Regions from separate parts of the Homo sapiens genome. Here regions 1, 2 and 3 are each linked to region 4. Evidence: fine-mapped expression QTL. A gene starts in region 4. Each other region holds a variant in brackets. All regions are shown on one strand. Distances are from middle to middle.

What was found. PIP is the estimated chance that this variant, and not a neighbour inherited with it, causes the effect.
Region 1: its variant is the best candidate, but not a certain one, in a credible set for the expression of PYROXD2 in whole blood (TOPMed, PIP 0.60).
Region 2: its variant is the best candidate, but not a certain one, in a credible set for the expression of PYROXD2 in whole blood (TOPMed, PIP 0.73).
Region 3: its variant is the best candidate, but not a certain one, in a credible set for the expression of PYROXD2 in macrophages (Alasoo 2018, PIP 0.68).

Annotation. Positions count from the first base shown.
Region 1 is chr10:98,383,338-98,388,485 of GRCh38, reverse strand. PYROXD2 (pyridine nucleotide-disulphide oxidoreductase domain 2) reads left to right here. Exons shown (of 16, transcript NM_032709.3): 13 at 1-132; 14 at 1,179-1,285; 15 at 3,419-3,539; 16 at 4,618-4,918. The coding sequence ends at 4,688. Among named protein-coding and RNA genes, the nearest start is that of MIR1287, 9.4 kb to the left of the region's middle. The variant A/G (reference allele first, on the strand shown) is at 3,114.
Region 2 is chr10:98,374,944-98,380,091 of GRCh38, reverse strand. No RefSeq gene overlaps it. Among named protein-coding and RNA genes, the nearest start is that of MIR1287, 18 kb to the left of the region's middle. RefSeq lists enhancers at 4,291-4,790, 4,791-5,148. The variant C/T (reference allele first, on the strand shown) is at 2,900.
Region 3 is chr10:98,337,943-98,343,090 of GRCh38, reverse strand. No RefSeq gene overlaps it. Among named protein-coding and RNA genes, the nearest start is that of MIR1287, 55 kb to the left of the region's middle. RefSeq lists an enhancer at 2,388-2,517. The variant T/C (reference allele first, on the strand shown) is at 2,345.
Region 4 is chr10:98,412,365-98,417,504 of GRCh38, reverse strand. It overlaps PYROXD2 (pyridine nucleotide-disulphide oxidoreductase domain 2), which reads left to right and starts at 2,323. Exons shown (of 16, transcript NM_032709.3): 1 at 2,323-2,496. The coding sequence starts at 2,370. HPS1 (HPS1 biogenesis of lysosomal organelles complex 3 subunit 1) reads left to right here. Exons shown (of 20, transcript NM_000195.5): 20 at 1-1,307.

The sequences.
Region 1 (5,148 bases), 29 kb after region 4:
CTTCCTCGCTGGACCCCACCCTGGCTCCCCCTGGCTGCCATGTAGTCTCCCTCTTCACTCAGTACATGCCCTATACGCTGGCTGGAGGCAAGGCCTGGGACGAGCAGGAGAGAGACGCTTATGCAGACAGAGGTAAAGACAGCTGCACGTTCTGCCTCCAGAGCCACAGCCGGGCATGCGACCCAACTGGGCCTGCTCCTCCTCACTGCCCCATTCAGGATTGACAACTGCAGGTGCCATTCCAAAGGGAGGAAATAGTCAAGGGAACCTCAAGTCAACATAGTTGACTGCAGGGGTCAGGAACTGGGCTAAGAAAGTCAAGAAGACACAGTTCCTGCCCTCCAGTTGCTCACAGTCTAGCAAGGGATGGAGGAGACTAATTAAGAAACCTTTTATTACAGCACAGCTGACTGCACGAACCAAAGGAGACGCATGAGCCAGAGAGACAAGGAAGGCTTTCAAAGGAAGGGATGGTCAAGCTGGGTTTCCAAGGATGACTAGGAGCTGGCCAGGCAGCAAAGGGCATTCCAAGCAAGAGAAACAGCTTGATCAGGCCAGGCGTGGGGGCTCATGCCTGTAATTCCAGCACTTCGGGAGGCCGAGGCAGGCGGATCACCCGAGGTCAGGAGTTCAAGACCAGCCTGACCAACATGGTGAAACCCCGTAGCTACTAAAAACATAAAAAAATTAGCAGGGTGTGGTGGCACATGCCTGTAATCTTAGCTGCTCAGGAGGCTGAGGCAGGAGAATCGTTTGAACCCAGAGGCGGAGGTTGCAGTGAGCTGAGATTGCGCCACTGCACTCCAGCCTGGGTGACAGAGTGAGACTCCGTCTCAAAAAAAAAAAAAAAAAAAAAAAAAACAGCTTGAGAAAAGTGAAGAGGTGAAAAAAGCTGCATATGCAAAAGGAGATCAGCAGCTTCGTGTTTAAGGTTGGGGTAGGGAAGTGGGGAAAACTGGGGACTGGACTGGCCTACCCATGCATCTTTGGGATGAATTAATCATTTGCTTGTGGACTGATTTTTGTTTTTCACCTATTGAGGTATAATTTGCATATGATAAAATAAGCCCATTTCTGTGTGTAATTTAATGACTGTTAGTAAATTTGCCAAGTTGTACACCCATAGTGCCTCCTCTTCTTCCTAACACCATCTCATTTCTCTGTTTTTGGCACCCCAGTGTTTGATTGCATCGAGGTCTATGCCCCTGGCTTCAAGGACTCTGTGGTTGGCAGAGACATCCTCACACCACCAGATTTGGAGAGAATCTTCGGGCTTCCTGGAGGGGTATGTATAAGCCTAGGGGGTCTCTCACCATAGCCTTCCCTCTGCACCCTCACTTCCTGGCTATGACCTCTCTGCTTTATCTTGTCCCTCCATACTCAGCTTTCATCAGGAAGGGAGGACAGTGGCAGGGACCCCGGCTGAGAGAGGGCAGAGAAGCGGTCAAACCGAGGGAATGGGGGATCCCTAGTGGGGGCTCAGAAACACAGGCAGGACAGCCCCCACTGAGAAGGTCACCAGGATTGTGGCCCTCTGCCTTGACAACTATGCTGGCTCTGCCATCTGACTTTCTTGAGAGAGAGCACCCCCTTCTCAAGGCAGCAGCACATCCTCAGACTTGTCAATTTATCAAAAACTAGAGATTGGAGACAGGGAGACCAGATAGGAGGCCAGGTTCAATCGCCTCATTGCAGCTACTGAGCACTTGAAAGATCAGAGACCACCCTAGGCAACGTAGTGAGACCCCATCTCTACAAAAACAAAAACCCCGCCAGGTGTGGTGGTGCGTACCTGTGGTTCCAGCTACCCAGGAAGCTGAAACAGGATGATCGCTTGAGCCCAGGAGTTTGAGACTGCAGTGAGCTGTGATGCGTCATTACACTTCAGCCTGGGCAACAGAATGAGACCCTATCTCTAGAAAGAAAATTTAAAAAAAAAGCAAAAGAAAGATCTGAGGCCAAAGTGAGATGTGCTGCAAGTGTAGAATGCACACAGTATAGAAAAAAATGTAAAATATCTCATCAATAAGTTATATATTGATTACATGTTGAAATTATAATATTTTGGATATATTGGGCTAAATAAAATATATTATTGACATTAGTTTCATCAGCTTGCCCTTCCTTCCTTCCTTCCTTCCTTCCTTCCTTCCTTCCTCCCTCCCTTCCTTGTTTCCTCCCTCCCTCCCTCCCTCTCTTCCTTCTAGAGATAGGTCCTGTTCTATCACCCAGGCTGGAGTGCAGTAGTGCAATCACGGCTCACTGCAGCCTCGACCTCTGGGGCTGAAGCCATCCATCCTCCCACCTCAGCCTCCTGAGTAGCTGGGCCTACAGGCATGCACCACCACACCTGGCTAATTTTTTTTTTTTTTTGTAGAGATGAGTCTCCCTGTGTTGTCTAGGCTGGTCTCAAACTCTGGGGCTCAAGTGATCCTCCCACCTTGGCCTCCCAAAGTGCTGGGATTGCAGGCATGGGCCACCACAACCGGCTCTGCTTTTACTTTTTAAATGTAGCTACTAATAAATCAAAAACTACATATGTAGCTCCCATTACATGTTCACTGAACAGCACTGGTCCAGGTATAGAGGAAAGAAGGCCAGGCAGCGGGAAGGAAGGGAATGGCTGGGTACAGCAGGCATGGGGCGGGCAGACTTGAGAAGCCTTGGTGACAGTGTGCACATAGGAGTCAGGGTGGAGGTGATGTGAAGGGTAGGCACAGAGGCCAGGGGGAGGAAGGTGGTGTCATTCACTTATGCAGGAGGATGGGGAGGAGCAGACTCGAGGGAAGAGGATGGCCTCAGTTTGGGGAAAGGTGAAGAGGGCAGTGGGGGAGCACTCCTGTGAGGATGCCCAACAGACGTCAGGCTTCTTGTCCAGACCTGCCCCCTGAGTCTGACCTTCGCTTGTCCCATGCTGCCTCCCTTCTCAGCCTGGGGCTGGTCTCACCCAAGCCAGGGGGGCAGAACCGTGCTCGGGCTCCGTTGCCCCTTGTCTGCCATTCACAGTGATCCTGCTGGAGCTTGGACACCGGGGTCCGGGCTCAGGTGGATGCCTTGGCCAGAGAAGGGAGTTCTCGCAGAGACGCATGCCAACAGCCACAATAAGTCAGACA[A/G]TTCTGTTTTTCCAACAGAGGGAGAGGGATGCAGAGTAGAGAGCAAAACCCTCTTTTCCTTCCCGTTCAGTTCGTGTTCCCCACCCTGCTTTCTTCCTCAAAAAGCCTCTGGAAAACTTCACTCCCAGCCCCAGGGCATGTGCCCATTCCGTCTCATCTCCTTCCCTTTCTGCATTTTAAAACCCAAGAAAATATCCTGGAAGGAGAAGAACATTTGCTGAAGAACAGGGGAGGGGAAGAAACCCAGCCAGAGCAGGAAAGGCTGTAACTCTCCTGTGCTGATGACTGTGGCCCTGCCTCTGCAGAACATATTCCACTGCGCCATGTCCCTGGACCAGCTCTACTTCGCCCGCCCCGTGCCCCTGCATTCTGGCTACCGCTGCCCTCTCCAGGGCCTGTATCTCTGTGGAAGTGGGGCTCATCCTGGTGAGTGACCTGGAGTCCCACTACCCTGTGGGGACTGGGAGGGCTCACTGGAGGCCAGAGACTTGGAGAAGGAGGAAGTTAAGCAATGAAGGTGGCAGAGAGGGAGGGGAGCAGGGAACTCCCAACATAAGCTGCCCTGTGTTCAGAATTATCCATGCACAGGTGAGCACACAGCCGCTGCCTCCACCAGGCTGACCACAGCCCACAGTTGAGCTCACACCTCCCCTTCAGGAGGCCTGGGGATGCATCCTGGTGGAGGCATCTCACCACATTCCAATGTGGGGTTGTGAGAGACCCATGTCCCTAAATTCCCCATCCGTATATATATTTAGACAGGGCTTCACGCTATCGCCTAGGCTGGAGGTGCAGTGGTATGATCACAGCTCACTGCAGCCTCAACCTCCTGGGCTCAAGTGATCCTCCTGCCTCGGCCTCTGGAGTAGGTGGGACTACAGGTGTGTGCCACCATGCCTGGCTAATTTTTTATTCTTTTGTGGAGATGGGTTTTGTTAGGTTGCCCGGGCTGGTCTCGAACTCCCGCGCTGAAGTGATCCTCTCCACTCAGCTTCCCAAAGTGCTGGGATTAGAGGCCTCCATCCATATTTTAGACCAGGAAGGATGGATAAAGTTAACTTCTTCAACTTTACAATTCTTTCTTGTGCGCATTCCAAGCCTAACGGAGCTGGCTGAGGCTATTTGCTATGCACACTTTCTCTCAGCTGTGTAGACTTGGTACCCTGGAAAGAGTCTGGGCTTACACATCTTCCCCCTCCCCCCAGCCCCTTATTCTGAAATTTTAACTTCACTTACTAAGCGTGTGCCCATCCAGCACGTCCACCCTCAGCCGTTGAGACTGTGGGCTGTGGACCTGGCCCCTCCCCAGACCTTTGGTGCAGGAAGCCTGGAGGGAGCCAGAATCTATTGAGCGGCTGTCTTAGGTGATTCCAGTGCCCATGCCCCCGGACCCCTCTAACCAGCCCCACTCTGCTTTGTTGCTGGATCTCTGTAAGCCCTGTCCCCACCCCCACCCTGGCAGGTTTTTGAGCGGAGCTTTGGTTCATAGGAGATTCCCTTCCAGGAGGAGGTGTGATGGGAGCTGCTGGGCGAAATGCAGCACATGTGGCCTTTAGGGACCTCAAGAGCATGTGACCCTGAACCAGCTCTGACCCAGGAAGAAGACTCCACCCCTGAATTCCAAGTGCTCCATTGGATCAGCTTCCCAGGAAGTTCAGCTTCGGGTTAGTACATAAGGCCACCACAATGCTCAAGAAATTATTTTAGAAAAAACGTACGAGTTACATTTAGTGCAAGTTGACCTTATGCCCATGCCTCCATACATGGACTGGTTCTGTTTTATTAAAACTAATATTTCATACAGATTATTTTGCTTGTATTTTTTCTCTGTGTTAGTTGGTGGGATAGACTTCTCTGGGGTACTCATAATTCTTACATCAGCTAAGAAGCAGTCCATTTAAAGGCCAGGCATGGTGACTCATGCCTGTAATCCCAGGACTTCGGGAAGTTCAGGCAGGCAAATCACTTTGAGGTCAGGAATTCAAGACCAGCCTGGCCAACATGGTGAAACCTCATCTCTACTAAAAGTACAAAA
Region 2 (5,148 bases), 37 kb after region 4:
ATATTCATGCAGTATTATTTGCAATGGCAAAATACTGGAAACAGCCTAAATGTCCCAAAATAGAGAATTAGTTAAATTAATCATGGTAACGGCACGTGATAGAATATCAAACAATAACTTTAAAAGTTACATTTTTGAATGTACTTTTCTTTTATCACATGGAAAAAATATGCTAATAAAAAGTAAGATATAATGGGACCTGAATTTTGTTGATAGTTGATAGATGGGTAGACAGATCTCTCATATATATGTAAATATACATTACATATACTAACTATAAAAAACATACTTACCCACACAGAGAAAGACAGAGACAGAGAGAAAGACAGAGATGGAGAGATAGAAACAGAGAGACAAATGGGAAAGAACAAAGTATACCCCAAAGTACAGTCTGCTAGCAGTAGCCTGAAGTCTTTCTGACCACTTGGCAGCAGCTTGGAAAATGTTCCTCACTACCTTCATGGAACCTATCATAGCATAAGAACCAGCCCAAAGTAAATGGATGGGACTTTGAATTTTTGTTTAAAAATGATGGCTTGTGCCTGGTCAAAATGGTGTGTGAATGGCTTATGCATTGATATATATCGATTGGCATAAGTCAGAGCGCTTCAGACCTGGTCTCGGTCTAAGAGATCCTCAGTGGAGACGTGGCGTCTTTGGTCATCTAAGGTCCCTGCAGCATCACAAAGGGAAAGGGCGGCATCTTCTAGTGTTTACACAGCCCAACAGAAATCCTGTGTTCTTGTAAGGAGGTGACCAAGGTGGACCTGAACCTGGATTTTGTCTGGTTTTATCTGAAACTAGGCAATGCTGTTATGTAGGTTGTCAGACCAGCAGCTCTGCAGCTGGCTATATGTGTCTTTGAGTAATAAGAGAATCACTAGAGGAATTAAATGAGACTAACCAAAGGACATTTGATTGGTATGCAGAAGTCTTCAAAACAATGTGTCTCTTAAGAAAAAAAAAAAAGAAGGTTGTCAATAGTGAAAAGATAGGTGAAACCTACACTTTCTGCACTGCACCTGTCGGCCTTCCTTCCTGTCTGATCTTTCAGGACCCATGGAGAAAGTGTAGGTCTGACCCAGAAGGCTGTTGTGTATAAAGAGGATGATGTTGCCTCCCATAGAGGGATGTGAGGATTGTATATACATAAACACAGCTCAAAAAATATGCACACTGTGTGACTCAGCACACCCACTCCCAGATATACCCAGCAGAAATGCTTACTGGTGTTCACCAAAAGATACATACTAGGCTGCTCCTAGCAGCACTACTTGTAATACCTCCAACCAGAAAGCTACCCCAATGCCCATTGAAAGTAGAACGGATAAGTAAATTGCGGCACCTTCGCATGATGGGCTACTATTCAGCAATGAGAATGAACAATCTAGAACCACATGCAACAAAACTATTTTGAGTCAAAGAAACCAGAAATGAAATAATACATGTTGTAGGATTCTGCTTATAATTTATACAGAAACAGTCTAAATTAATAGTTCCTATACTGTTAAAAGTTCACCTTTGGTTGGGCACAGTGGCTCACACTTGTAATCCCAGCACTTTGGGAGGCTGAGGTGGGAGGATTGCTTAAGGCAAGGAGTTCAAGACCAGCTTGGGCAATGTAGCAAGACCTCATTTCTAAAAAAAAAAAATAGCCAGGCATGGTAGTGCATGCATGTAGTCCTAGCTACTTGGGAGGCTGAGGAGGGAGGATCACTTGAGCCCAGGGGTTGGAGGCTACAGTGAGCTATGCTCATACCACTGCATTCCAGCCTGGGCAACAGAATGAGACGCTGTATTGAAAAAAAAAGTTCACCATTGAGGGTGTTAAGGCCTAGAAGGAAGCCTGAGAAGGGCTTCAGGGTGCTAGCAGTGTATCTTCCTGTTTGATCTATGTGATGGTTACATAGGCATGTTCAGTTTCTGAAGAATTCATTGGTTTCTATACTTAGGGTGTTGCAGTTTTCTGTATGTATATTATACTTCAATAGAAAGTTAAAAAAACTAGTGCCTGGAATATAGTGATGTCACTTATTAACATCATTACTCTAAAGCTAATATTTATTGGCAAAGCCCTATGTCTGAGGCTAGACTTGAAAGGGGAAATGAAGAAAGAGGGTAAGGAAGGAGAAGAGGAGAAAGGGAAAGAGGGATGTGGTGGACAGACCTGTAGGGTGCCCCCTACCCAGGACCCCTGCTTACTGGTGCCCATGGCCTTGTGTGCTCCCCTCCCCTCAAGGGTGGGTGAGGTCTATGAATTGCTTCTAACCAACAGAATATGACAAAGGTGAAAGGAGGTATGTGATTATATCACACACAGCATAATCGTGCAGGAATTTCAGTTCCTGGCTGGCCGTGAGGAGGCAGGTAGCCCTGTTGAAAACCCCATGTGGCAAGTAACTGCAGTAGCCTCCAGCTGACTGAAGCTCTCAGACCTACTACCTCAGAGAATGGATGCTGCCAACACATGTGAGCAAGGAAATGGATGCTTCCCCAGTTGAGCTTCCAGATGAGAACACAGCCTGGCCGGCACTGTGAGTATAGCCTTGTGACACCCTGAACAGGGAGTCCAGCTGTGCCTAGATTCCTGAACAGTGGAAACTGTGAGATAATAAATGTGTGTTGTTCAAAGCCACCAAGTTTGTACTAATTTTTCACACAGCAATCAATAACTAATACAAGGGAGAAGGCCACATAGCCATGCACATGATGGGTGCAAAATACGATGATATGAATTGAAATTATGCCCCTAGATTTCAAAGTTTTCCCATTCAAAATGACCCTATGAGTTGGACTTCACTCCCATAGTGGCTGGGCGTCCATCTCCCAGCAGGGCCAAGCCTGGAGTCACTATGACAGAGGGCATCAAGTCAGACACACCTGTGTTTGGATCCTGGCT[C/T]TACCAGCATTGGATTTTAGGCATGTTCCTAATGCTTCCAAGTCTCAATTTCTTATGTGACTCATGGAGATGGTAATTTTTTTTTGTCTGGCACAAGGCACACAACAAAAACTAGTTTTTTTCCTTCCTTATACAACAACATGTTACTACATATACTCAGAAGCACAGGAATCAGACAGAGTGAGAGGCCTTCTGGAACATTCTATGCCAACCTGAAGCAGAGGGATGAAATTAAAGCCACCACAAAAAGAAATGGAGCAAGATTTCCCTCGATTAAGGCTTTGGACATCACTCAATTAGAGGGCTCCCAATCTAGGAGCTTCCATCCTGGGACCACAGCACACACAAACACACACACACAACCCTATACAATAAACTACACCAACTCACACATGCAGATCAATACGCCAGGGCAAGAGAGAAGGAAGCAGGCAGGGCAGTTTGCCAAAGGCAGAAATCTGTGTGTGGGATGTTGAGCTGTATTTCTGGTCCAGTAAATCAATCTGCCTTGAAAGGGCTCCTCCAACTTCATGACTGTAATTGGAGCTACCTTCCTCAGGGGTTGTTTGTTACATTTAAGGTCAGGTGACAAGCACTGTTTTTCAGAGTCTGCACAGTCACTCTGCATCTGCCTCTGGGAAAAGTTCTAGCAATATCTGGAGAATCAGCTAAAAATGAGTATGCCTGAAGGCTGTTGAAAAGTTGGGAGAAATGCAATTGGGTTAACTTCTGATTTCTCTCCTTGTCGGATTTCCAAAACTCACTTCAACATTCTCTCCAGGATGCCTCCCCTAAAACCAGGATCTATCTCCATTAATTTGATGCTTGTTAAGACTCACTGTAGCAGAGGCACCAGCCCCAAACTAACCCGATAATAATAATGGCTGCTATTTAGTGAGCCTTGATTTCATGCCAGGTACTGCACCAAGCAAGAATTTCCCATGCTTTAAATCTACAATAAACCTGGGGGCCGATTACTGTACATCTCTGCTTTTACAGAAGAGGAAACAAACACAGTTAGGTTAAATAGTTTCCTGAGGTCACAGAGCTGGTAGTTGACACAGTCAAGATTTGAACTGAGGTCCTTCTGACAGCAAAAATCATGCTCTAAGCAAGAAACAACACTCTGGACACACCTAGTGGACAACTGGTTGTAGGGTCATCAAGTTCCATCAATTGTTGGCCACCTGTGTAGGGCTATACATGAATGTTAAGGAATGGTTCCTTGTTGCAAAGCATTTACAGTCTAGTGGAGGACGACAAAGAACACTCATATAAGAATTATTAACAACTCTAGCTGCATGAATCTGTGTGAGCACACTAGTGGAATTTGGAGAGACAAGCTGCCTGTTAATTGGTAGGGTCAGGAAGTATTTCTCACAGCAGAGGGGACTGAGCTAGAGTGGGGTCAAGGATGCACTAGACATGATGAGTGAAAAGAATAAGGTGGGCATTCAGGGTCTTCTGGGCACCATGTGACAACGGTGGGATGGAGGGATGGGCAGAGAGTTCAGAGCCACAGTCGGACGGGATGAGGATTGTGAAGAGCAAAGGCGAGAATAAGGCCGGATAAGAGGGTCAAGCTGCAGATGCCATGCCGGGCAGAAGGTGGCCTTCATTCTACAGCCAACATGGAGTTTGCTGGAGGAGGTATGGGGATTTTACACACATGGGAGGACGTCCAGTCTGTTAGCCTGTTAAAGTGGCCACATTTGCAGTGTTGGCAGAGGCCAGGGGACAAACTCTTGGGCTTCCTCCTCCCCACCTCCCCTCGCCCTCTCCCAAGGACTCAAATGAGCAGTTGAGATATGGACATGAGTTGGGAGTGGGAGCTTCTCACTTGGAGGCTAGAGCCAGATCTTCAGACTACTACACCCCTCTGTCTGCCAAGCCCAGGTGCTCAGTGGAGGGCCATGAACAGAGGCCAGCGTGGCTCCTTCTCATCTCCATAATACAGCCATGTTCTCTGCAGCCTCAATGCAAACAGCTCCTCATTCACCTCTGCCACAGACAGAAGACGGATCCTGGCTGTGGAACCTGGATCTGGGAAGCTTTAGTGGCAGCACCTGTTTTTGGCTGGAGGTGTTTGTAACACCTTGTAGGTATTGTCCCCTGGGGCAGCATGGACCCCTCTACCTGCTTTGAGACTGTGGATGACCTGCATCTCATCAAGGACCGAGGCAGATGGGGACCTGGGCCTGGATTTCTACTACAGAAGCCAGAGACTCATCTGCACGCTGCAGAAACTG
Region 3 (5,148 bases), 74 kb after region 4:
TCCCCACAGTGACTATGAGCCCCCTGGTCTTATAGAGATGGAGCTGATGTGGTTCTATGGAGTTAAGAGAGTTGTCCAAAGTGGCATCTAGCATGAACGAGGATGCAAACCCAGGATGACTGGCTTGGCCGCCCTTGGCCACCACCTTGACCTTGAACCCATCATATCATCCCTCTTTTCTCTCTACTCCGTCACCCGCTCCTCATCTCATGGGCTCTCAGCCTCTTACCTTGACTCCTGCCTGCAGCATATATTCATCCCTGTCTGTGAGGGACTGGAATTGTTCTCCTTTTACCCTCTATGGTCTCCCTTCTCCCACCACAATCTGTGCTCAGCTTTAGGTCGCCTTTGGTTGTTGACCCAGGTAATATTCAGCTCAGACCCTGAGACTTGGCCTGGTGCTGGCCGATATGACCAGTATCCATAAGAAAGGATTTCAACAATCGCCACACAGAAGAATTATGCACACAAAACAAGAGGGTCTTTCTGCCACATCTCTGAACAGGAAAATCAATTCAACAAATATTTATTGGCACTTACTCTGTGCAAGGCATAGTCTGTATATTAAAAAGAGAAATGGTATGGCCTTGAGGTGGTGGAGAAAATAAAAACATGGTTCAACCGATTTGTAAATGTCTGAGAGACTACAGGGAACAAGGTAGACTCCATAAAGTGCTTGTCCAATCAAACTAATATCTCTATTTATTCCACAATAAGAATAATGACAGCTGGAAAGATATGTCATCCCTTTGGACAGGTGTATGACTTCTCTTCCAGAAGCCAAACAATGAGCTGCATCCAGAGGCGTCACTGCGCCCGAGGGAGTGAGTGGAGGGACCAGAATGCAGGCGGGGGAGGCAGGCACGGGCAGGCACCCATGGGACTTGACTTACAAGTGAAGTGGCTTCCATAGTTGAAGCTGCAGGGGGAAGGTTAGCTGGGAATGCTTGTGCTGATGGTTCCTCCCTGGCAGGAAGGAGGTTCCTGGAGTCTCCTCCTTCCAACTCTAGTATCCAATTTGACTCCATATAGATCTTGTGTGTTCTTTTTTCTTGTAGAAGAACTGCTGTGCATACCTTCAGGGCACAGGAAACTACAAGATTAAGTTATGACTTGCAGGACTGTATTTGTCTGATGGAAATTGCAGGTGGCTGGCCAGGCGCGGTGGCTCACGCCTGTAATCCCAGTATCTTGGGAGGCCAAGGCGGGCATATCACGAGGTCAAGAGATGGAGACCATCTTGGCCAACATGGTGAAACCTCGTCTCTACTAAAAAATACAAAAATTAGTCGGGCGTGGTGGCGGGCACCTGTAATCCCAGCTTATTCAGGAGGCTGAGGCGAGAGAATCCCTTGAACTTGGGAGGCAGAGGTTACAGTGAGCCAAGATTATGCCACTGCATTCCAGCCTGGTGACAGAGTGAGACTCTGTCTCAAAAAAAAAAAAAAGAAAAAAAAGAAAAGAAATTGCAGGTGGCTACATGTTCTCACTTAAAAAAAAGAAATTGCAGATGGCTGCATGTTCTCACTTATAAGTGGGCTAAGGAATGTGTACACATGGACCTAGTAGAAAGACACTGGGGACTCAGAAGGGTGGGATGGTGGGAGGGGAATGAAGGATGAGAAATTACCTAATAGGTACAGTGTACACTATTCAGGTAATGGTTACACTACAAGCCCAGACTCCACCACCACTCAATATATCAACATCACGAAACTACACTTGTAGTCCCCGAATCTATAAAAATAACAATTAAAAAAAAAAGAAACTAGAGGTAGAAATGAAAGAAAGCTGTCAGGCTAAAAAAAGTATCTGCCAGGGCATCCCATGGAGTCACAGAACTGCAGGGACCCCAAGGGCAAGTGACCACTTTGCAGCAAAGGGCACCAGCCTCAGCTGGGACATCTGCCCTGGCCCTGGCACACTGCCTGTGCTGGCTCACCAGCCCACCTTCAGGCAGCTCTGCTTATCAGCACACTCTTTCTTAATACTCACTTTCATCACTTCCACTCGGTGATGGCAGCTTCTGCTCCTTAAGGCCATAATGAACAAGCATAATTCATAGACTTTTTAGTGTTGGGGACTCAAATGCAAGATTAAGAACTCCTAGAGTGCAGGGACCAAATTAAACGTTTGAGATTCTTTTAAAATTATGAAAGAAATACAAGCTGCTGGTATAAAATTCAAACCGCACAGAAGCAGGCATAGTAAAAACATTCTAGTCTCCCTTCGCCCCTGCCCCAGAGACACTCACTATTAACAGCTTCCAGACTTTTTATTATGCATTTATATTAATGCGAGCTGTGATTCAGTCCAATTTGCACTTTTAAAAAGCTCTCTCTGG[T/C]TCCAGGGTGGAGGACAGACTGGAAGAGCCAGGGGTAAGAACAGGAAGTCCACTTGGCCAAGGTGAAAAATAACAGTGACCCAGACAAGGTGGCAGCAAAGGAGATAGAGCTGAGGGGGGAGATCCGATGTCTTTGGGGGTGGTAGAACCAGCACACAATTGCTGAGTGACTCACTGGACCAGTGTTCACGGTGATCTTCCCTCCCTTCTCTGCACTGCTCTTTTGTCCAAGTTCTCCCTGGCAACAGTCAGAGAAGCAGAAGGTTTTAAAAATAGACCTGAGCTTCCCCTCACCTGCCACCAGAACGTGGTCTCAGAATAGCAGAGCAAAAGACAGAGCAGAGAGCTGCCCCCTACTAGAGGCAAAGGAGACATTTCCTTTCAAATCTCTATTTTTAAATTCTGAGCACTTACTAGAAAGTGACCCGCTAATGTACCTGGGTATTTATTTCTTGATGGTTCCCAACCCGTGGGTAGAATTTGGAGAGGCTGGGTATTTGGGAAAATAACTGACTTGTACCACGTTTGCAAATGCCCCAGATTTATCCCTGGGGTGTGAACCTATTTGCGGATTTCTTTTCTTTTTCCTCTTTCTTTTTTAGATTGCCTGAGCCATTCCTATACATAGCCAGAGAAGAGGCTGACTGCAAATAGCTGCTTAAAGAAACAGAGCAATTTGGAATAAGCAAAAATAGCTCTTTGTGGTAACTTGAGTGTCTCATTTTCAATATTGATTTCCGTGTCCTCTTGAGTGTGGTTTTCTGGAACTGCATGGGCAGGCAGGTGATGGTACCACCCTGTTTATTTCCGGATGCACACAACACGCAGTGGCCCTCTGGTCACGTGTGCTTAAATACTGAAATAAACCCAGGGAGCAGACTTATTTTCACATGTGGTTGTTAAAACTGTGGGTACCACACTCACCTTGGCCCACAGATGTCTTACAAGGTCTTTCAGGTGCACAGAGCAGCCCATAGCAGATCTTCTATGGAATGTGATTCCTACCATCAGGTGCTACCTCAACTCCCTTTTTTTTTTTTTTTTTTTTGAGAGAGGGTCTCACTCTGTTACCCAGGCTGGAGTGCAGTGGCACAATCTCAGCTTACTGCAACCTCTGCCTCCCTGGTTCAAGCAGTTCTCCTGCCTCAGCCTCCCAAGTAGCAGGGATTACAGGCACCCACCACCACGCCTGGCTAATTTTTGTATTTTTAGTAGAGACGGGGTTTCTCTGTGTTGGCCAGGCTGGTCTTGGACTCCTGACCTCAAGTGATCTGCCCACTTTGGCCTCCCAAAGTGCTGGGATTATAGGCATGAGCCACCACGCCCAGCCTGAACTCCCTTCCTTTTGCTTATGTGTTCACTGCCCAGGTGAGTTTTGGAAATTAGTGGCATTACTTCAAAACAGAGTTTCACAACCAGGCCACACTTCAGACCTTTGAAGCCCTGGGGATGAAGTCTAGGCACACGCAATGTGAAAAAGTTGCGTCCAAGAGTCTGGTGTGCACCCTGGTAAGTCCTGTGGCTTTTGAACCAGCTACACTTGCACATACTGGGACACAGGGAGCATCAGAGTGCTCAAAAGACAAGTGTTAGAACCCCCAGGCAGCTGCAATAATACACTAGAAACCCCAGCCGGGACTTTGGAGAAGCACCCCACTGGCCTGCATCTCTCATTTGGAAATACTTTATCCACCATGCGCAGAAAGAAAAAAAAAAAACAGAAACCAAGTTGAGATTCATCCAAAGATGGATGGATTTCAAAATAATCATGCTGAGTAAAAGAAGCCCGACAAAAAATGAATCATATGGTATGCTTCCATTTATAAAAAGTTTAGAAAATGCAAGCTAATCGATAGTGACAGAGAGCAGATCCGTGTTTGCTGGGGGACAAGGAGAAGGGAGGGATGGATTGCAAAAGGGCAAAGGAAACTTTTTGGGGTGATGGATCTGTTCATTATTCTGATAGTGATGATTTTCACAGGTGTGTACCTATGTCAAAACTCATCAAATTGTACACTTAAATGTGTGTAGTTTATTGTATGTCTGTTATATCACAACAAAGCTGGAAAAAAGAAAGGCTACTCCAAAAGTGAGTTCGCTAGGCGGTGCTATTCCTGAGTCACAGGAAGGTCACTAGACTGTAAGAATAGTTCACCTTCAGCACTATGCCAGGCCCGTGCTATGCCTTTACAAGCATTATATCATTTAATCCTGAAACAACCCTAGGAGGAAAGGGAGGCGTAGAGATGATGAGTAGTCTGCTCAGATTCCCTCAGTGGGTCAGTGGAGCTGGGGTTGGATCCATGTCAAAATGACGCCACAGCCCAAGCTCTGAAATCCAAGGAAGCATTTTGTTCTGGCTGCACCACTAAATGGCCGTATGACTGAGTTGGGAGGGTCCTTAGGCAAATATCCTTTTGGGAACCTACATAATCCCCAAGCAATATCTCTTTATAAGAATTTCTTTGGGGGAAAAGTCACCAACCCCAAATTAGTCAAAGCTTGTAGGTCTTAAATAGAAAGCCAGCTAATATCTCATAAGTACAGTGTATCGTTTTGAACTTAGGAGTCACTGGAGGTTTGAAAGGTGCGTTGGGCTTTCAGCTGTATACTTGTTTTTTCACCCTGAGACAGAGTCTTGCTCTGTCATCCTGGCTGGAGTGCAGTGGTGTGATCTCAGCTCACTGCAACCTCTGCCTCCCGGGTTTAAGCAATTCTCTTGCCTCAGCCTCCGGAGTAGCTGGGATTACAGGCACCCGCCACCATGCCCAGCTAATTTTTGTATTTTTAGTAGAGACGGGGTT
Region 4 (5,140 bases):
GTTCCCCATGACGAGAGCCTCCTGTCTGCAGTGGCCATCCTGAGGATAGGGCAGAGTGCCCAGGGTGGCCCCAGGGCTTCTAAAACCCCACCTAGACCACCCTCCATGTCAGGTACTGAGCAAGGCCCCAGATCCTTCTCTCTGGAGGAAGAGGGAAGCCCAGGGGTCCTGTTTGTAAAACAACGGTGGCAACAGCTCCTCTTCCAGAGCTGCCTCTGCCTTTATCCTGGGAGATGGGGAGGAAGCCCCATCTCTGCTGTTCCCTGCGTGGAGGAAGCCCACCCAGCAAGCTCTCTCCTACCCCAGGTAAAAGGTGCTCCTTTGCCTGGGTTTGAATTCCAGCGCTGCCACTTCCTCTCTGCACCTCCTGGCAAGTTTCTTCTATTCCCCACGTTTAAAGCGATGGCACCTCCGTCCCAGGGTGGTGTGAGGATTACCCAGTGTGGTAGGTGCTCAATAAATGTTGGTCATTGTTATCACTGAAGCCCAACATGCTAGTGCTTCTAGACCCTTCTGTCAGTGCTGATAAGCCCTTGCTAAGTCCCAGCCCCTTCATGCTTGGCTGGCGTCTGCCCTAGGGCTGGGGTTCTCAAGCCCCTGGCCCTGGCCCAGAGATTTGGATTCCCTTGGCGGCCGTGGAGCCCAGCCTTTGATGTCTTTCAAAGCTTCTGTGGTGCGCCCTGGATTGAGAACCACCACCCGAGGGGTACAGCCCCTCTCTTCCAACCGAGAAGTTCCTGTCCCAGAATGGACCCAGGGACAAGAGACCCTGAGAGCCCTGGGACTGGGAGTGTCTGCTCCTCTGAGGCCAGGAGGCCGGTGCTGGGCCAGAGAGGACGGCGTGGCGAAAGTCAGCGTCCACTGCAGCACAGGATCAGATGGCCGTGTGCTGTGCATGCAGGAGCCTCGCCTTCTGTGTCTTTAGTCTTGAGCCAAAATTTGCTCAAAGACTGATCTCTTCCTTGCAGGGAACAGCTTTGGGGCTGGGGGAACTAGAACCCACATGTTGGTCTAAACCCTGAGAAGGTGGCAGTGAGGAAGTATCCCCTCAGGTGACTGGATCTGTGTTCCTCCTTAACATCATCTGATGGAATGGCAATGAAAAGCGTGGATTGTGGAAAATACAGAAAAACATAAAGGAAAAAACTCCAATCCCCTGAGCCCACCACTGTTCAGGACCCCTGCTTTTGTCACCTACTATTTCCCTTTAGTTTTTAGCAGCGGCTGGATGTGATATGTCTAGTTTAACCAGTCCCCTTGATCTTTCTATATAATAAATAACACAGGAGTGAACATCCTGAATCAGATCTTAGCAGAGATGCTCACATGCGGGGTAACTGTCCATGGTGTGTGGAGGGGTCCTCGGAACCCCCTCTTAGGATCATCTCCACATACTCTCCCAGTTCTGAGATTCGTTACCAATAGCAGGTTTCCGTCACACTGCGATATCAGAGCAGTGCAGGAACTCTCCGCTCCAAGGGGTTTTTTCCTCCTAGGGGAACACTCTGCTAAGTAATGGGCAGAGAACAAAGGGGCTCCTAATTCAAGGCAGGCCTAAGGGAGGGTCAGAAAGAACTTTAGCTGGAGGTATTTACAGATGTGACCTCGAATCCTTGGGGATTCTTGGAAAATGGGCAAGGTGCCAAAAGAGGAGAACTGGCCAGGCCTTCAAAACTAAAACACCAGAGAATTACAGACAGCGAACTTGCCCCTAAGCCCTCGTTGTGGGTTTGTGTTTGAGCATTTAGGAGAGGACTCCAGTGCTCCTCAGCGACAGACACAGCTGCCTCTGCGGTGTCTGAAGGCCCTGGTCGTGGTGACGCTAGATGGCCGCCCTGGGCGCCTCCTGTGGGCGTAGAGGCATCACCACTCTGCACTGGCAGACTCAGCATGGAGTTGGAGCAGAGTCTGACACGAGCACTTGCCATCCCAGGCGTTTCAGTTCTGACTGAGAAGGTAGATGCACAGGGGAGGAGAGGGCCCTTTCGAGCTCCACTCTGCCTCCACCACTCATTCCCTAACCCCGCAGCCTCAGCGCCCTCATCTGTAAAATGGGGAGTTTTGCCTACAGGGTTCAGCACAATGCCAGCCTGACATAGGAACCCCAGTGGATTGTCAGTTTTGCCATTATCCCCTGCATCCTGGAGGTGACACCGCCTGGTTAATAGGCAACACTCCCGACGGCCCAGCACAGCCCCAGGGCAGCAGGAGGCTGGCCTGTGGCCAAGAATGCATGGTGGAGGGGGCCTGGAGGGGGACTGCAGCTCCTCCTCTTCCTGCTTCCTCCCTGCTCCACCCCGTGCCTAGGGCAGCACAAAAGCCAATCGCTAGCAAACTCCCTGCCTAGCAAGGCCCAGCCTGGGGCAGAAATGGCTGCAAGTGGCCGAGGTCTCTGCAAGGCTGTGGCCGCCTCTCCCTTCCCGGCGTGGAGACGAGATAACACGGAAGCCAGGGGAGGTCTGAAGCCTGAGTATGATGCGGTGGTGATAGGAGCAGGTAAAGTGGTAAAGCAGGCCGGGCCAGAGCTGAGGGGCGGGAAGACAGCCCTGCTCAGAGCTTGGTGGGGAGGGGGAGGGGGAGCCAAGCCCCACTGCTCTCTCCTCTGGCATAACCCAGCCAGAAGTTTATACGCTAGCAGGGGCTGCAATGGAAAGCCCTTCCATCTGGCAGGCAGGCACCTGGGATTCCGGTGCTGGCTCTGCTGTGTGGCCTGGGGCAAATGCTTGCCTTCTCTGGGCTTGGATCTTCCCATGGAGAATGACAGGAAGACTAGGTGAGCTCAGGGGTTTCCCTATATCTCTTGCAAAGTGACCTAGTTTCCACCACATTCTCAGCCTATGGTTTGTAAGGGTTGGAAAGAGCCCTGGGCCAACAGACAAGTGAAATCCAGCACCCCGCCCCCTCAGTGCCCTGAGTTCTGGTCACCACTACCTTACCACTGAGGCCACCCCTCGTCACAAGAAACTGCAGTCATTTCATAAAGGCCAGTTAGGATAAAACAGAACTGAGTCCCAGAGTTCCTACTGCGTGTCTGCAGAGGGAGATGGACCCCATTGCCTTGCAGCTCTGGGACATTTGGGGATCTGCAGTGATCTGCCACACTTTGCCAACCCCTGGGCTCAGAGTATCACAGTCTACTGGGTGCTAGGGGAAGAGGCAGGCCCAGGACCAGGTGGTCTTTCCTTAGTGCCTTCCTTTCACACTTGCAGAGGGCCCCAAATGCATGATTGCCAACTGGGTCTATACAGAGATAATGACGGGACCGAAAGCAGACGGCACTCAACATGCAGCTTTGAGGGCATGCCTTCATTTTCATATGTACTAGAGCAGTTGCGAGCTGGTAGATACTCAACACTCACCTCTCCAGGGAAAAATGTGTGATGTATGTGTGTGTGTACATGTATATATATGTATATATACACACATATATGTGTATATATATGTATATGTGTTACGTACATATATATACACATATACACATGCTTATTTTAAATATTGAAATAAAAGATACACTGCACACAATTTTACAAATAAAGATACAATACTCTCAATTTAAATGCAGTCTACCCGAGTGATTCTTACCAAAGGCTTTCTTTGATTTTTGCCAAACTCAGTAGCCAACCTATAGTTGCAAATGACAAATGAGGGTAGCTCCAAAGAGAACGGTGCTCCATATTTTCTGTAAAGAGTAGGATGATCGTGAAACAAATGAAACAACAAAGATTTATGTCCCAACCTTACTCCTTTATTTTTTAAAATTTATTTTTATTTTATTTATTTATTCATTTATTGAGATGGAGTCTTGCTCTGTTGCCCAGGCTGGAGTGCAGCGGCGCAATCTCGGCTCACTGCAACCTCCGCCTCCTGGGTTCAAGCGATTCTCTTGCCTCAGCCTCCCGAGTAGCTGGGACTACAGGCGCCCACCACCACGCCCGGCTAATTTTTGTATTTTTAGTAGAGACGGGGTTTCACCATGTTGGCGAGGCTGATCTCAAACTCCTGGCCTTGTGATCCACCTGCCTCAGCCTCCCAAAGGGCTGGGATTACAGGTGTGAGCCACTGCGCCCGGCCTCCTTCTTTAAATGACAGGAATGATGTTACTCAAATAAGATAATATTGTTCTAATACTAGAATATTTCCTTCAATTTTTGTGCTATTTATTCATGCTATAACAGCTAACACTGTTAGGTTTAATCTGCATTATTAGCATTTTCCCATCACTTTCTTAAGCCTGACCACAAAAAATAAATTCAGCCCTTCTGTGTAATATTTGCTGATGACAGTGGTGTAAATACTCCCACCATAGCCTTTTCTGTTACCAAGATGAGGTTGCTCAATGTGATTTAGGAGAGATACCCAGTAGCACATCATTGTATAGTGTGTCCACCATGCAGATATGTACATAGAGGCCAGTGACTGCCAGGGCATGGGCAACAGTCAAATGTAGTAAAACAAATAGGAGGTAGTGTGTTTTGAGTATTTATTACCTTTGTTTTTAATTTATTTAATTGTAAGCTTATATAATTTAGTTTATATCAATGGCTGTTTGACAGCCGGCTCACAAACTCCCCGGGCTGGTGGGAGCCATCTCCAGCACCTCACTTAGCCTCAGAGAAGCCCCCTGCCTCCTTCCGTGCTCAGCCACAGCTCACCCTGCTGTCTCCTAATGGGGAAGGTTGACTTTAGGTCACCAGCTGCCTTGGTGACTTGCCTACAAGTGCGAGTGAGTCTCAGTGTGTGAGCTTTTCCTTGACATGATTTCTTTAGTTGCTAAACATACCATAAAGCCTGGTTTAAAGGCATCTTGGGCCTCAGTGAGGAACAGAACGGCATCTTCTGAGACAAGGGTTACCTCTGAGTCCCTGAAGGCACACTGGCACCTGGCCGCCACCTTGAAGATGAATCTCATTTAGTCATTTGACTAAATGTGCCTGAGAGTGACTGAGGGGGCTTGTTAAAATGGAGATTCCTGGCCCCATACCTGGTGACGAGCATTCTGAGGGCGGGAGGTGTCTCCCAGAGGTCAGCACATCCACCCAACCAACACTGCCTGATGCAGGCAGCTGCAGAGCCCACGCCCAGAGCAGCTCCTCAAGGGCCCAGGCGCCTGCTATGGGGCCCCTGAGGCAGGTCTGGGGAT